Homo sapiens: one gene and its partner. The protein of the gene in region 1 purifies or fractionates together with the protein of each later gene. This does not show direct contact. Each region holds a gene or a part of one and is shown on either strand. Other genes may lie near its edges.

Region 1 (8,683 bases):
CATACAGGTACCCCCTCACCCAGAGCATTTCATTGGCAACATTCCAAGTTTCTGAGTTCTCTTTTAAGGAGGACTTACCATGTACCAGACATTAAGTCAGACTCTTGGAAAATAAAAACACAGTATTTGCCCTCAAGGAGTACGATTAAGGGTGGGATGGAGAAGACAGTTCTAATCACGTGTTAAGGGAGATGGGGTCTAGGTATCCACAAGTGTTATGGTAAGACCAAGGGGACAATGTTAACATGTCCCAAGGGGTTAAAAAAAAACCAAAAACTGACAGAGGGCATGATGCCCAGGCTGGTTCTTGAAGGCCAAGAAAGGGTTAGGCAGGAATGGAAGAGGGGAAGCATGTGTGCAAAGGCAGACAGGCTTAAGAAAACACAGTCTATTCAGGAACTCCAATTAGCTTGCATAGCTAGAGGATAGAACGTAAAACAGACTGAACAGGTACAAAGAGAGCAACGCATGAAGGGCCTTGTGTGGCACGCACGCTAGGGAATTTGGATCTTAGTCTCAGGGTGAAGGGAGATCAGTAAAAGGCTGCGGAGGCGGGTGGATCACTTGAGGTCAGGAGTTTGAGACCAGCCTGGCCAACATGGTGAAACCCTGTCTCTACTAAAAACACAAAAACTAGCTGGGAGTGTCATCCCAGCTACTCGGGAGGCTGAGGCAAGAGAATTGCTTGAACCTGGGAGGCAGAGGTTTCAGTGAGCTGAGATTGCACCACTGCACTCCAGCCTGAGGGACAGAGTGAGACTCTTGTCTCAAAAAAAAAAAAAAAAAAAAAAAAAAAGAGTAACAGTTGTAGATGAAGCCATAGGTATAGGTATGGATGAGATAGTACAGAGTATGTAGACTGAGATGCAAGCAGAGACAAAACCCCAGGGCATTGTAATCTCTCTCTCATCTGAATACCTATACCATTTGTCTGTTACATATTGAATTTGTCATATGCTGCAATAAACATTTAGCTCAGTGCGTACTGTGTACAAATGCTAGATATGAGGGTACAAAGAATGAAAGATCTTTTCACCCAAGGAGACTATGATCTAGTTGTGGAGAAAGAATCATGCCCAATTATTATGCAAAATGAAGTTAAATAGAAACTATAAGTGTGTTGAGTGTAGAAGAGGCAATTAATTCAACGGAAGAGCTAATGCAGCTTTCAGGAGGGGAGGGAAACATTTGAGTTGGACTTTGCAAAAATAAGTGGATTTTAACAAGCAGGGCAGGGGAAAGAAAGGCAAGTAATTTTAGGCTGGAAAGGAACACATGTAAAGATCACAACAGAATGGAGTGTAGGAAGTGGTGGGGAGAAAGAGGCTGGAAAGGTTGCCTGAGGCCAGGATCTAGGTGCTTGGGAATGCTGTTGAGGTTTCTTAGGTGTCATTTGAAAGATGGCACACATGTGCTGATGTACCCAAGGCCTCCACCTAGTTCTGAATTTCAGAAATGCCTGGAAGACCAATGAATCAAAAATGCTTAAGGAAATCTAAACATCACCAAACTAAGGCTTGAGGCTTGTAAATGCTTTTTCTCAGTTCTATATTTTCATTTTGCAAGACTGCAAAACTCTGTGTTAGTAGAACTTTAATTACTTGGCTTCATTATAAAATTTCCATTGCATATAAGAGTATAAATAATTTCACTCTAATGCTCTCATTTGAATCTGCGGCTGAAAGCACTGGCAGAAATCACATTTTCATGGCACTTCCTTGGCATGTTGAAGGAAAACAAAATGTATTCTGCTAATCAAGTCATTAGTGACTTTGAAAGTGATGGATTATATCAAAAAACAGCAAATAATCAGAGATAAAGAAGTATATTTTAAAGATTAAAAATATTTTATTTAAACTTTTCTTCATAAACACTTTTAACATTTTTTTCAATTTAAAAACAGAATGGATAGCATAAACATGTTTGAATAGATTATATCCACGGCTTGGGAAAAATTACCTGACAAAAATGTAAAGGCTTTCAAAACAGGTATAAAAGGCAAACCTTAAATTATTCTAAGATTTTTATATCGGCCCTAGGATTATTTGACTACTGGCCCAAAATGTACCTAAAGGTCAAAATATTTTTCTATAGACAAAGTATGCCCAAGAGGTATAGGGCATATACAAGTTAGGTAGAAAATAACCTCTCCCAATCACCTCACTGGACCATTCCTTCAGAAAGCAAACACCTAATCCTTACTATATACTGACTAATAACATTTTAAATGCAGTTGTTCCCAAAATGTAAAAAGAAAACCAAAGAATTTAAGGGAGAACAAAGCTGATGGCATTCTCCTCAATGTTACTTGTGTAATATTGAAGTTATACGGTGTACTGAAAGGATATGATTTCCATGAATTTATCTATTCCAGTCTATGCCTACTGAATATTTGACTTTATAAACTCTGGATAAACTAATTTTTAGGACTTCCATTTTTAAGATAAATCTCTTTTTAGAAGATATTTATTCCCAAACCAACTCTAAATGTAATTGAACAAACATATGATCTCTCAAAATGTTCAGAATACAAAAACAAAAATCAAAAATGTATAACAGGCAAACAAGAAAACTGGCACTAGCAGTTTTACTGCCATATAGCCCTCAATTATATCTGATTTACACTATTATCTATGTTGCATTTTACTTCAGTCTAAAACTTTAAATTATGAATTCTCAAAAGAGCTAGTCTCCTCTGAGAGATAGCTTATAAACTGAAATAACAATTTATATTATAAACTGAAATGTTATGACCTACACCCACATATACATATATAAAAATAGTCCCACTGAACGTTTGACATGTTTAGATTATGCAGCTCAAATAATCTGTTATAAAATATTTTAAAGCTTAGTTTCATGTAATTAAGACAAAACTCCATTTTTACCACTTCTCCCCACATAAAGCGTGTGTCCTTTACTATGACTCGAGCAGGCTTCCCAGAATGAGGTGTCCAAAGGTGCTGCTTTAGAAAAGATAAGTGAAGGGCTCAGTCAGTATTTCACAAATTCTAGTAACACTCACACAGAGCAGAGTAATGAGGACACAGAAAGCTGTCTCAAGAAAAGCTAATAATTCTATTAGTTAAGCTTTGCTTTTTAAAAACCAGTAGCATTTCTTCCAACACAAAACCTTCAAAGTGAGAATCTTGCATTTTAAGAAAAGGCTGTAGTGCAAGGAATTTCTTTAAAATCAAAACTTAGAAGGTCAAAGACACGGAAGAGAACAAATGGTTCTAATTAAGATGTAATTAATGAAGATCAGCTATTTTTGTGAACTCTGGCATTTGAGATATAAAGTGAAAACAACACGCATAAAGGTCATAACAGTTAAACTGTATAGATTCAAATCTTACTGAATTTTTCAAAAAACTACTTTTTTGAGCGCAATGTATATAAACAAAAACTCCAAATGAAGCACACAAAAAATAAACTTGAAAAAAATGCTATGAAAAACTTTTCCATAGTTTAGTATAACAAAAATAAATCTCTTGCAGCAATAAAACCATAATTTTAAAAGGGAATGTAAGTTAATCATGGATTTAAAATAACCTAAATTAGAACTACATATAAACAGGGAGTTTTCTCATACATTCAGAACCCAAGCAACAGCAACTATCCTTAAAGCTCAAAACTGATTACAGCTAACATCAGGTCCGACGTGACTTACGTAAAGCTGAACCCAGAGTTAGTTCAAGTTAAGATTTTACGAATTTTACAAAACATGAACTTTGATCTTGGCCTCTGTCTTTAAAATGGAAGACCAAGAATACTCAAATGTTTGCCCAGATGTCACCCTGACTAGGGTCATGAAGTCATATCTAAGCAATTAAAGAGAACCACCACTATAGTGTAAAGGCTTTGATGTGGATACCTGGCCTGATGGCTCTTTCTTGGTCTTTTCTAGCAAAAGACATCAATGAGGAAAATAATGAAGACGTTATTTTCTTTAAAGCAAAATAGCACACATACAAAGCCACTAAACTAATGTAGAAAAAAATTAAATGGCTAACTTATTCCTAACTTTCAAAAATAAAATAATGTATTTTTTAAATGTAGAAAAAGACTTTTACCCATATTACCATGGGAAACAAGATACCAAATTTCATGTTTGGAAACTGTAAGTAAATGACAGGACTAGTTAATGAAAATATAAGTCTCATATATAAAATAAGATTATTATTGATTTTTGAAATCAATGCCAATGGTTTTTTCAAAAGCTACTTATGTACCTGGTTTCTTAAACCCAAATGCCTCCAATTCTGGAGTTTGAAGATCAGGTTTAATCTCATAGTATGTCTAATAACTGCCCAAAAAACCCCCAAAAACCAAAGTCTTCACATTTCCATGACTTCACACTTCCATTTTATGTTCAATGGTGGCAGCAGCAAAAAAACAAACAAACAAACAAAAAAACAAAAAACACCAAACAAAGTGAAACTAGAAAATTTATACATCAGCAGCCATATAGAAGGCATTGCAATATTGCACCAATATTCTAAGATCTGGCAAGTTTTGCCAGTATAGATCTAGTCTGTATCAGATATAGACTACTCATGCGCAAATGGCATCAATTTCAATGATCCACTCCCAGGTTATTCTTGCTTAACTTTGTCAACTATGTTTTTTCCTCTGCATTTAAAGAGTTGAAAGGTGCAGCTAATCCTAAAACACTTATTATAAATGCTTTTAAACAGCTATTCTTGATCCATTCTGAACTTTGTGGTTACTATCCTTCATGCTAATAGCTTTCAGTAAATAAAACAAAAACTGAGGGCTTACATCCCTAGTGTCGCTGGGTATTTTGTACAAAATAAACAAGTAGATAAAACCAGTAACATTATAATTCTATTTCTTACCTCTAAGTCAAAACTGAGGTCAAATTTTCTAAGAGTTTCTACCTTCCATTCAATAACAAATGCAGCAGCCTTACTGAATGTAAAAAATGGGAGTTGCACTTACTTTTAAGGGGCCTTGATTTAGGAGTCTGGTATTACCTAAATGCTCTTTAAAAGTGCTTGCATGCTGCAGGGCCAGAACTTGTCATATACCACTCCGATTCTCACTAAAAACAGGGTAACGTTAAACAGACTGCAAAGAAAAACATTTTCAAAAAGAAAAGACATACATCGACAAAGAACACTAACATTTACTTTTGAAAATAAAATATAAAGTGTTAGTTTTCATAACCATACATGTTTCAGAAATATAAGGAGTTCAAATATTACTGAATCAGTATGGACTGAAGATAGGCTACTTTGATAGCAAATGAGGACTCCAGTTATTTCAACTTTCTAAAAATGTTAATATGTGAAAAGACGTTACATCTAAAATTCAACAAGTATGGCGAACTGTGTGTGCAAGTAAGTGCACTAGCTTAAAAATATAGAATCCTAACCACGCATAAAAGGGATGTGCCTTGTGTATTTATAGGTTGTATGCGAGTATGAATATGCTTTCACTAACACAATGCGGATAAGAGAAGGCAGCTTAGAAATAGTGTTTTGAATATAAAAAGTTAATTTTGTAGAAAATTTATATTTTTGCATTTTCAGCAAAAAGCCATGCAAAAAGGTCAAGAGTTTTAAACTTTTAAATAATAAAACTAAAAAGTATAACAGACTGAAATACACTGAAATAAATCTTCAAAAAGGTTTCAGATAGAGACAGAGACTGAAATCACATCCAGTGACACTTATCGGGTCTTCTCTTAGAAGACACATGACTCCTACGCTAACATCTGAAAGAAATGTTTAAAGCAGAAAATCAATATCCCAGATAAGTGGAGCATTCTATTCAACTGCTTCTGGAAGTAGTTTCAAGAGCTAGCACTTAGAATTAACTTATTGCATGAGTTTGAGGCCACTGAAAAGAAAAAAAGGATGCTAGCACAGAATGAAAAATTCTTACAATGTTAGACCAATGGCTTTGATAGTAAAACTGGTGAGGTTTTTCTTTATATGTTTTAATTAATTACTCTGTGCAAACAAATACTTTGTTTGCCTCTTTTTTTAGGGAGGAGGATGTCATTAGTTGCAACGCCTGACCTCATCCAGTACATAGTCCGGAAAATGCAGGTTGCATACTTGTAAACCATCCAGCTTGCAGGGCATCCGAGGGTACTCATCTTCCTTCCACTTGTTTTCATCCGGATCAAAAGTGAGGATGGAATCGCTGTAATGACCATTATAACAAAGGCCTCCAAGAACCATTATTTGTTTGTCCAGCACAGTCACACCATGGCCACTTCTACCAATCGGCATGGATGCCAAGATGGTCCACTGATCAGTCTCTGGGTTGTATACTTCTGTAGAAGGGCATCCCTGAGATTCGAAAGAGGCCCTCAAGATCACACAGACACCACCGAAGACATAAAGCTTGCCATTGTAAGAAATCATCTTGTGAAAGCATCTCGCGTAATTCATCTTGCTCTTATTCTCCCAACAGTTGGTAACCACTTGAGTTCTCCTGGTCCGTTGTTCTATGGTCCCTTCTTTGCTGGGGTCAAACACGCACACTTGCTTGGAGGTGGAAGATGAGGTGATTCCACCGGTGATAAACAATTTGTTATTGAGCACTGTCCCCTCATGTCCATATTTGTTAACTGGATAAGGATCCACAAATTCCCATTTATCGTTGGTGATGTCATATCTCTCAGTTGAATAGAAAGTCTCATCTCTGGTTCTGCCTGCTACGGCGTAAATAAACTTCCCAATAACACCTACAGCAAATTCAGAGCGTGGTACAGACATATCTGCCATCTGCAGCCAGGAGTTCTGTCTCGGGTCATACCTGAATACTTTGGAAGAAGCATGGAATTCACCATCCGGGCCCAGCTCTTCCCCGCCTAACAGGAACACAAAATTATTGACGATAGCAAGGCAGTCAGGTCGCAGAGGTACTTGTGGGCCTTCTAGCTCCCACCAGACTCTTGGTTTCTTTAAGAGAAGTATTTTACTGTTAACCATGCTATGTCCAATCATTCCTCGAAATACTGTAGTTTGCGGTTTTGCAGAACGGATGCGGCTTGACTTCATATCCAACAAAGGCTGCTGGTGAACATTCTGAAAGTAATTCAATGCTTGGTCAACTTCGTAACGGAGCTGTCGGGAGTATCTATAAAATTCTGATGTCTTAACCTAAGAACACAAGAAAAAGAATTTAACCAAAGGAAAAAGCATCAGCTGCAAACAAATTATCAAAGCTGACTAATACGATCATCTTAGGCTCACTTTACTAAAACTGCTTTTCCTGCTAAGATCACCTACTTTCTTTTGTTTTCTACAAAGCTTTTAAAAAATCTTTTTTTTTTTTTTGGAGATGGAGTCTCACTCTGTTGCCCAGGCTGGAGTGCAGTTGCATGGACTCAGCTCACCGCAAGCTCCGCCTCCCAGGTTCAAGCACTTCTCTGCCTCAGCCTCCTGAGGCGCCTGCCACCACGCGCCCAGCTAATTTTTTTATTTTTAGTAGAGATGAGGTTTCATCATCTTGACCAGGCTGGTCTTGAACTCCTGACCTTGTGATCCACCCGCCTCAGCCTCCCAAAGTGCTGGGATTACAGGCGTGAGCCACTGCACTGGGCCTCCTATGTTTTCTTAATTTATAATGATCTATGTACATTCCCAAGCTTTTAAGAGTAAACAAATAATTAGGCACCTATTATGTGAAGCCCTGGGCTACAAGTAGCGGGTATGAGGACAAGTACAGGGCTTCACAGTAGAGGAAACCATATCCACAGTTTTCTTAACCACAAGTAACATCATAAAGCTGTGACTGAATCATTTGGGGAGTTAAGTTAGTGAAAATTTAAATACATGTAAAATTTCGGGGTTTTGACATAAAGACTTGGTCTGATAACTCCTGTAAGAATTCAGTAGATATCAGGTCAAACTTTTTCCTTTAATTTTTAAAATTTTATTTTAAAATTATTATTACTATATATTTTTAGAGATGGGGTCTTGCTCTGTTGCCCAGGCTGGTCTTGAACTCCTGGCCTCAAGCGATCCTCCTGCCTCAGCCTCCTGAGCTGCTGGGATGACAGGTGTGAGTCACTGCGCCTGGCAAACATTTTCCTTTTTGCTTCTGGAGCTGGAGCTACCTAATTATGATGACTACCAAGATTTATATAAAGCATTTTTGGCCAGGTGCAGTGGCTCATGCCTGTTGTCCAAGCACTTAGGGAGGCCAAGGTGGGAGGATCACTTGAGACCAGCCTGGGCAAACAAAGCAAGACCTCATCTCTACAAAATTAATAAAATAAAATAAAAATAAAGCACTTTTAAGTATTGTCCTAAGTGCTATAGGGAGAAACAAAAATAAGCGTAAGATGTGATCCGTTTCCTTAAAGAACCTAGAATGTATTTGGGAAAGTGGAAACAAATACAAATTTACCAATAGGTAAATGAGTCAGGTGACAATTAGGTATGAAGCCAAACAGCACATCTGTGAGTGTGGCAGAATTAGAGATAAAGATTATACTAAACTGGCCCAAGACATTCAAGAGATACTTTGTGGAAGATATAAGAAGTAGGGGACCAAGCAGAAAAATCCTTTGTCATAATAAGACAAGGATAAGAGGGTCTTAAATTTGGGTAACAGGAATTAGATAGCGTAGAGATAACATCTACAGACAACCATGACTGATTTGAAATAGGGTGAAAGAATGAGGACTCAAATGTGATTT
Region 2 (8,378 bases), on another chromosome or scaffold:
GGCATTCAAGGGAGGAATTTCCTCCTTTTCCAGTCAATGGCAGCCTTCTCAGCTTGGTTTTCCAGGCTCAGGAACCCCATCTTTGGTGGTTAATGCCAATAAAATCCTCTTCCTTAGGGAAAAACACTATCCTCTTATACCACAAAATTTTACTACATGATCTTGATAAGGACAAAATAGCAGAATAATGCATTATCTTTACGTATTTAATGTAACTGCTTGTTTACACTGCCAAAAGAAAGGCTACTTTCCATAAACTTGAGATCATAGGGAAACTGGATATTATACTTTTAGCTTAGGCGTTAACTAATGGTACAAAGTATGTAAACCCCTATCACTTCTAAATGGCAGTTCACTGAATGAAAATCAGTTTACTTCCAATTTTTGTTTTGAGGATTAGAGGTTTAGAAAACATCTTTAAATATTAAAAAGTCATTAAAACAAGGGAAGCAAATTAAGTTTCAAATTAAGTTACTGTGGTTTTCCTGGGCCACTGTTGTCAGCCAGTTACAATGTGCTCCATTTCTCTAGACCCTAGCTCCTATTCTGAAGCTGGTATCTTACTTAAATTTTCCTTTCTAGGCCAGGCTCCGCGGCTCATGCCTGTAATCCCAGCACTTTGGGAGGCCAAGGCAGGTGGATCACCTGAGGTCAGGAGTTCAAGACCAGCCTGGCCAACATGGTGAAACTCCGTCTCTACTAAAAATACAAAAAATTAGCCGGGCATGGTGGTGTGAACCTGTAATCCCAGCTACTCGGGAGGCTGAGGCAGAAGAATCACTTGAACATGGGAGGCGGAGGTTGCAGTGAGCCGAGATTGCGCCACTGCACTCCAGCCTGGGCAAGAGTGAGATTGTCTCAAAAATAAAAAAAATAAAAAATAAAAAAAATAAAAAATAAATTTTCCCTTCTAAAAGGATCACAGTAACATGAATAGCAAATAGAACATTTTAGGCAGCAATTATCTAAAACGTGGATGCTCTTGAGCATGCATTCTCAATGGGGGTGAAAATTGGTTCATTGGGGACAAAAAAAAATTCTATTTTGTATAAAGCAAAAAACATTTACAGTCCATAAACAGATACATAGTATATATCTGGTGTTGAAATATCATGGGGAAGGGGTGACTAAGAAAAAAATCTAAAAAAGTTCTTCAGGGAGGTGATAAAGAAAAGGTTAAGAAGCCAGGTGTAGTGACTTATGCCTGTAATCCCAGCTACTTAGGAGGCTTAGGCAGGAGGACTGCTTGAGGCCAAGAGTTCAAAAACAGCCTGGGCAATATAGCGAGATCCCATGTCTACTTAAAAAAAAAAAAAAGAAAAGCTGCTGTGGAGATTCTTTTGCTAAGTCAGGAATATCTAACTTAACTGTATTTTTAAAAACCCTAAGTGCCGAGATAAAATGGAAAGTTACGGCTATTCCACTTCTAACCAATGTACTTGCAAATGGCTCCAGTTCTTTGATTTTTGTTTCTCCTAGCCAGAGTTGCTACAATTGTTCAAGGAAAATACTTGGATTTCTTTTTTTAAAGATGATAAATCATTAAGTTTATAACACATAGAGAGTATAAACCAAGAAAGTAAATTTATTTAAATTACTAAAATAGCTTTTAAAGTCATTTACAGATCAGCTGCTATAATTATTTTTCCTGAAAGACATAGGTAACATATTACTTTTAAATTACTTGGGTCAATGAAACATTTAATAAAAACATTTGTTTCTCTATATAATACGTATGTATAAAATAAGCCTTTTCAAAAACTCTGGTTTTCATAATCCTCTATAAATCAGATGATCTGACTTCTAAGAGGAACAAATTACAGTAAGGGGTATACATTTATGAATACTGGTAGTACTAGAGGAAAGACGTTAAACCACTCTACTACCACTTGTGGAACTCTCAAAGGGTAAATGACAAAGCCAATGACTGACTCTAAAAACAATATTTACATTTAATGGTTTGTAGACAATAAAAAAACAAGGTGGATAGATCTAGAATTGTAACATTTTAAGAAAACCATAGCATTTGACAGATGAGAAAGCTCAATTATAGATGCAAAGTTATAACTAAACTACTATAGTAGTAAAGAAATACATTTCACACCCTTCATATAAATTCACTATCTTGGCTTGAGGCACTCCATAAAATGTATCACGTGCATAGTAAATCTTTATATTTGCTATGGCGTTGCACTAGAGGACTTGGACTGCAACAAGTGGATGCGCGGAAAATGAAATCTTCTTCAATAGCCCAGGACAGCTGGTTAACAAATGGTTTGTCAATTCCTGAAACTCATTTCTTAATTCAAAACAAAAGCTTCAGGGTGTGTCCAAAATAAACTGTTACGAATTGACCTACTTTTTTTTTTTTGAGACGGAGTTTCATTTTTGTTGCCCAGACTGGAGGGCAATAAGCATGGTCTCGGCTTACTGCAACCTCCGCCTCCCGGGTTCAAGCAATTCTCCTGCCTCAGCCTCCCAAGTAGCTGGGATTTCAGGCATGCACCACCACGCCCAGCTAATTTTTGTATTTTTAGTAGAGACGGGGTTTCACCATGTTGGCCAGGCTGGTCTTGAACTTCTGACCTCAGGTGATCCACCTGCCTTGGCCTGACCTACTCTTAAGACTCAAGTGAACAAATATATTAAATTTTGCAATATACATGAAGAATCCTTGGGACAGCCAAGAATTTTTCTTCAAGGAAGGAAAAAGGAGATGTAAAAAACAAATCCCAACGGAATCCACCAAGATTAACAGTTCATATACCTATGTTTGACTAAACTACATCTCAGTGGATTACTGTAACATTTCCTCCCTTCAGCTTCCCCATTAATTTTCCTTCCTTGCCTTGTTCTTTCCATTTTCCAAAAAACAAAAGAAAAAAATTCCAAACACACACCTAGATGACCTTTCATTACTTATGTTCCTATAGGCAGAAGCTAAGGAACTCACACCTAAATGGTATAAAAGGGAACATAATGGGAAAATCCCTGGTTACATTTAGGGAGCAATCTTACTAATAACTCAGGAAACTTAGTGAGAAATCTAAGTTAAAAAATCAGGAAGGTTCATAAGAAAGGACACAAATCCCTCTCACTGGTCATACCATAACTGTAATAACTCAGCCCAGAATCAAAACAGATTCTCTAAGGAACTGCATATAATCTGCACTCCTAAGATACCTTTAACAGAGCTCTCAATGGAAACTGAAATGATTCTCTCATATCACAGATAATTAGGTTGAATGAATGATTTATATGTTCCATGTTTATGTAAGCACTTAACTTCTTTAAAAAGAAACTAGTTCTTTCAAAAAGAGCTCTGAATTCTGTCTCTGGTTAGAAAGTGTGAACAATTCTCAGAACTTGGGACATGATTTTTCTTCTCTCTCACTTCTTATAAGCAGATGCCCCTTTTCAGGGCATTTTCAGGTTGCACAGGCAGAACTAAGTGAGAAATACGGCTCCAGAGGCCATTCAGTTTGTCTGGGTCCATATGATTGTAGGAGTTGGGTGTGTTAGAATTGGTGAACTTGACTTTAAGAAAATCTCTTACTTTTTCTTCAACTTCCTTTAGGCCTAGACTTGTTCCAAGTGTCTCTTCCTCCAATAAGACAGTCAGGACTAAGGCTACATCTTTGAAGGCCGCGTTTTCATGGTCACAATATTTGTAGAAGATCAAAGTAGAGCCTGCGGGAAATGACTCAAAGCGGTGTACCACAGCTGCATTCTGGCCATTCTTAAATCCATTGCTCAGTTCTTGGTCTACCTCTAGTTTGACAGTATCACTGTCTTGAGTAGCTTTATCTGTCCCATCAATCCGGATGGCACGGACACTACGAAAAGAAGAATAGGCATCAGCAATTTGTTCACTCAGACACCTAAGTGCTTCTTCAGCATCTCGGGCAGCAGTGAGCAGTAAGATAGCAGGCTGAGACCGAGGATGGGAGCTATTAAGATGTTTTTCCAGGAATGTTTGGCTCCTTTTCCACAGCTTCTCATCTTGACCTTGGTACTTATTCTTAAGTTGATTCATCTGGTTCTGGAACTCTTGAACAGCAGTGGTTTCTACCTCAGGAGTACTAAAGAACCAAAAACTCCCAGAGGCAAGAGCAGCTATCAGAGGAAGTAGCCACCACCGGTTCCTCTTGACAAAAGATGCATTTTGGGGTTGTCCAGTCACTTCTACTCAGACAAAAAAGAAATGACAGATATAAATACCACTTTCTTAGATTCAGGGGCAAGTGACTTTTAAAATCAATATCAGTCTTTATAAACATTAGGTAAAAGAGGAAGGACTTTAAAGAAGAAAGCTGATAATTTTCTTAATAAAATAATTTATCACATTCTCAAGAAAATCTTACATGCATAGGCTTTGAATTATGTGTACAAATATGCATATGTCTCTTCAATATAAAAATAAGTCTTTGAGGAAAAAAGTTTTTAAACATATGAAATGGCATAAACAAGTCAGAAAAATAATAGTTTATAAAGCGAAGTTATTATTTTCACTGCTAATAGTTGGGAGAATAGACTATTAAAATACAATTTATAAAATATTTTTTTAATTTAGTAACTCAGCATTCACATGGCTAATTATTCAAGGTGAAATATTTCTGAAGTACATAAAGGGATAAAGAAAAGGATGCAGGCTGGAAGTGGTGGCTCATGCCTGTAGTCCCAGCACTTTGGGAGGCCGAGGAGGGAGGATCACGAGGTCAGGAGATCGAGACTGTGAAACCCCGTCTCTACTGAAAATACAAAAAACTAGCTGGGTGTGGTGGCACACACCTGTAGTCCAGCTACTTGGGAGGCTGAGGCAGGAGAATCACTTGAACACGGGAGGCGGAGGTTGCAGTGAGCCGAGATCACGCCACTGCACTCCAGCCTGGGTGACAGAGAGAGATTCCATCTCAAAAAAAAAAAAAAAAAAAAAGAAAAGGATGCAATATAAATGAACATCTTCTACGTGTTATAATAGCTAGCTGTCCCTTTAGATTAATTTCACTGATGCCTTTTGTGGTATGCAAGTTAACACTGGTAAAATTTAGTTTGTGACTCATCCCTAGTTACTATTGGCAATAATAATAGGATTAATTTATATTTATCTAGTGCTTTTCGGTTTATAAAGTACTTTCTCATATTCTACTTCATTTATTCAGTTGATAGTAACAATAATACTTTTACATCTTTTACTTATTGACTGTTTCAGGCTATTAATTTTAGTAGGGACCTTTTAGAGCAGCAATTCTCAAGGCGTGGTCTGTGGGGTACCTCAAGACCCTATTTTGTGGGGAGGGGGGTCCATGAAGTTAAAGCTATTCTTCTAACACTAAGATGTTATTTGACTTTCACCTTGTGTTGACATTTGCACTGATGACGCAAAAGCTATGGTGAGAAAAACTTCTGATGCCTTAGCATGAGTTACAGGGCAGTGGCACCAAACTGTACGAGTGTAGTCATTGTTATTTTTCACTGCCATGCATTCAAGATTTAACAAAGGGACATTCTTTTACTTAAGAATGTCCTTTATGAAGCAGTTAATTATTTATCTTATTAAATCTGAATCCTTGAGTACATATGTCAATATTCTTTCTGAACAAATGGAAGGTATGCACAAAGCACTTCTGCTGCATCATACAGTACCATGGTTGTCTCAAGGAAAAGAATTTTGTGCAAATGAATTACAAGGCGAATTAGCACATTTTTCATGGAATACTATTTTTTACTTGAAAGAACAAGTAACAAACTACAGTCAGACTTGTGTATTTGGCAGATATTTGCTTTCAAGTGAAAATTAGGATTTTAGAATCCTAAATCTGCCACCATGAGCTTGACAACTCCCAATATTGTACTTTAACACTTTCTTTTTTTTTTCTGAGATGGAGTCTCGCTCTGTGGCCCAGGATGACATGAAGTGGTGCGATCTTGGCTCACTGCAACCTCTGCCTCCCAGGTTCAAGTGATTCTCCTGCCTCAGCCTCCTAAGTAGCTGGGATTACAGGTGCGTGCCACCATTCCCAGCTAATGTTTTTGTATTTCTAGTAGAGACAGGGTTTTGCCATGTTGGCCAGGCTGGTCTTGAACTCCTGACCTCAGGTGATCCATCCGCCTGGGCCTCCCAAAATGTTGGGATTACAGGCATGGGCCACGAACCCCACCCTTTAACACTTTTTTAAAGTCTTGAGATTGGCAGTGATGTTAACAAATGTGATATTTTTTATTACATTCCTAATGTGTCAATGTTTGGAAAATCTGCATTCCTCAGTGAACCAATGTTTTCCAAATGACCAGTGCATGATACTCCATTCAAAGTATAAGAAAGACCAATGACTTTTAATGTAATAGAGTACTAAAAGCTCAGTAAGATGGTTTTAGATATCCTATTTCAAGTAACATTTAAGAAACTACCACTTGTTGAGTTTTGGAGAGTTCAAAAAAGAATAGCCACAATTATCTGAAGAGGCTATTAAAATTTTTCATATCTGTATAAAAGCTGGATTTTTTGTAGATACTTCAACAAAAATAATATATTGTAACAGACTGCATACAGAAGCATATATGATAATCCAAATCCATTTTTTAAAGCTAGGCATTAAAGAGATTAGAAAAAATGCAAAGCAATCTGATCTGTTACTCTTCTTGCTAAATTATTTTAAAATAAATTAATACATATTTTAAAAAATGTTTCAACTTTAATTTCCTGGTACATATGGATAGACATAACCCATATTTTCAACAAAAAGCTCTTTGAGGTTCTTAATAACTTTACTAGTGTAAAGCGGTACCAAGAACAAAAAATTTCAGAATCATCATTAATCTATTTTCTTTTTTTTTTTTTTTTGAGACAGAGTCTCGCTCTGTTGCCAGGCTGGAGTGCAGTGGCACAATCTCGGCTCACTGCAACCTCCGCTTCCTGGGTTCAAGTGATTCTCCTGCCTCAGCCTCCTGAGTAGGTGGGACAACAGGCGTGTGCCACCACGCCCAGCTAATTTTTGTATTTTTAGTAGAGATGGGGTTTCACCATGTTGGCCAGGATGGTTTCGATCTCTTGATCTCATGATCCGCCTGCCTTGGCCTCCCAAAGTGCTGAGATTACAGGCATGAGCCACCACGCTCAGCCCATTAAGTTATTTTCTTAGTACTCTTTCAGGACAATAAGACTTGGAGAACTAAAGAAACTTGCCACAAGGCTGTAAAGGAGGTAAGTGGTCCAATCTAGTTCAAATACAGGTTTGCAGACTCCGAAAGCCATTGTAATCCCATAAAGTCATGCTCTGGCTAACTTTCTTTCAATTCAGCATGGTTTTCTCAGTTAACAGTATTAGTAGCTTTACTTATTTTAGCTATTATTTTTGGTCTTATAGACAGTTAAGTGAAGAGCAATACCAGATGTTGTCTCATAAAGTTTGTCTATAAAGAATTTCACTGCTAGTAGAATATATACTTTTTCCTCTCAAGTGCTTAAAATGTGATTCTTCAAATAGCATCGAGTCATACTGCTGTCAAAAAACATTTTTAAACAATTATGGAATACCAATTTTACAGAAATATTTAATAAAAACTGAATACATAAACTTACGTCGGCTGGAGGTTGATGGTGACTGGTTTCCAAGCTCTGATTTCAGAATGCTGTCATCTAATGGTGAGAGTAATAAAATAAGACTATCAACTTATGCTTCATAATTTGAGTATTTATTTCTAGTAGACAAAGAAGATACAAATTCCACCAGGAAAAAAAGAAGACAGAGATCAGCCAGAAGCAGAAGAAAAAGTAGAATATCTGAGTGCCGATTAGACTGAGAGCTCCTTGAAACACATGACCTATTTCTTTCATAGCTTTTCACAGCATATGGTGGGGTCTAGTACAAAGCACACAATAATTAGTTTTGAGAGAAAGTTTGGAAGTATTTGACCCATTAAGTATCTAATGGGATTGGTGAAACTTCCGGGATAAAAAGGACAAAGAAACTAAGCACACCATAATAAAATGAAACATATTATACCATCTGAAAAACTGCCATATATTGAACTCTTGCCTGGTGAAGATGCTGTAAAGAGGGGGAAAATAAGGACAAAATGTGGATTACAGACTACTGAGCTGTCTGGATAAGGTGTTTTAATATAAAAATCTTAATCCTCACTATTTTCTACCTCAAACTGATTCAGTATTTCCTCTGGGGATTCTGACCATTTCAAATACTAGTAGTATTTTAAAATCACATTTAAAAACTTCTCATCATTTCTGTTAATAGACAAGTAATAAAGTAATTCTGTTTTAGGCTTGTGGTTAAACAATAGAGCTCAAAAATAATTTTCTCTCAACTCTGTCAAATTTCTACTTTCATCTAAATCTATTTAGAAAATAAATTAAGCCG

What was found. The genes of interacting proteins can lie anywhere in the genome.
Region 2: the proteins of KLHL15 (region 1) and TOR1AIP1 purify together in Homo sapiens (co-immunoprecipitation; 3 studies listed by BioGRID and IntAct, with this or other methods). This does not show direct contact.

The regions. Positions count from the first base shown.
Region 1 is NC_000023.11:23,981,892-23,990,574, forward strand, and holds the end of KLHL15 (kelch-like protein 15), read right to left. Parts: intron 7,140-8,683; coding exon 6,030-7,139; 3' UTR 1,829-6,029; downstream 1-1,828. UniProt on the Homo sapiens protein: Substrate-specific adapter for CUL3 E3 ubiquitin-protein ligase complex.
Region 2 is NC_000001.11:179,913,259-179,921,636, reverse strand, and holds the end of TOR1AIP1 (torsin-1A-interacting protein 1), read right to left. Parts: intron 7,640-8,378; coding exon 7,583-7,639; intron 4,186-7,582; coding exon 3,398-4,185; 3' UTR 1,561-3,397; downstream 1-1,560. UniProt on the Homo sapiens protein: Required for nuclear membrane integrity. Induces TOR1A and TOR1B ATPase activity and is required for their location on the nuclear membrane. Binds to A- and B-type lamins. Possible role in membrane attachment and assembly of the nuclear lamina.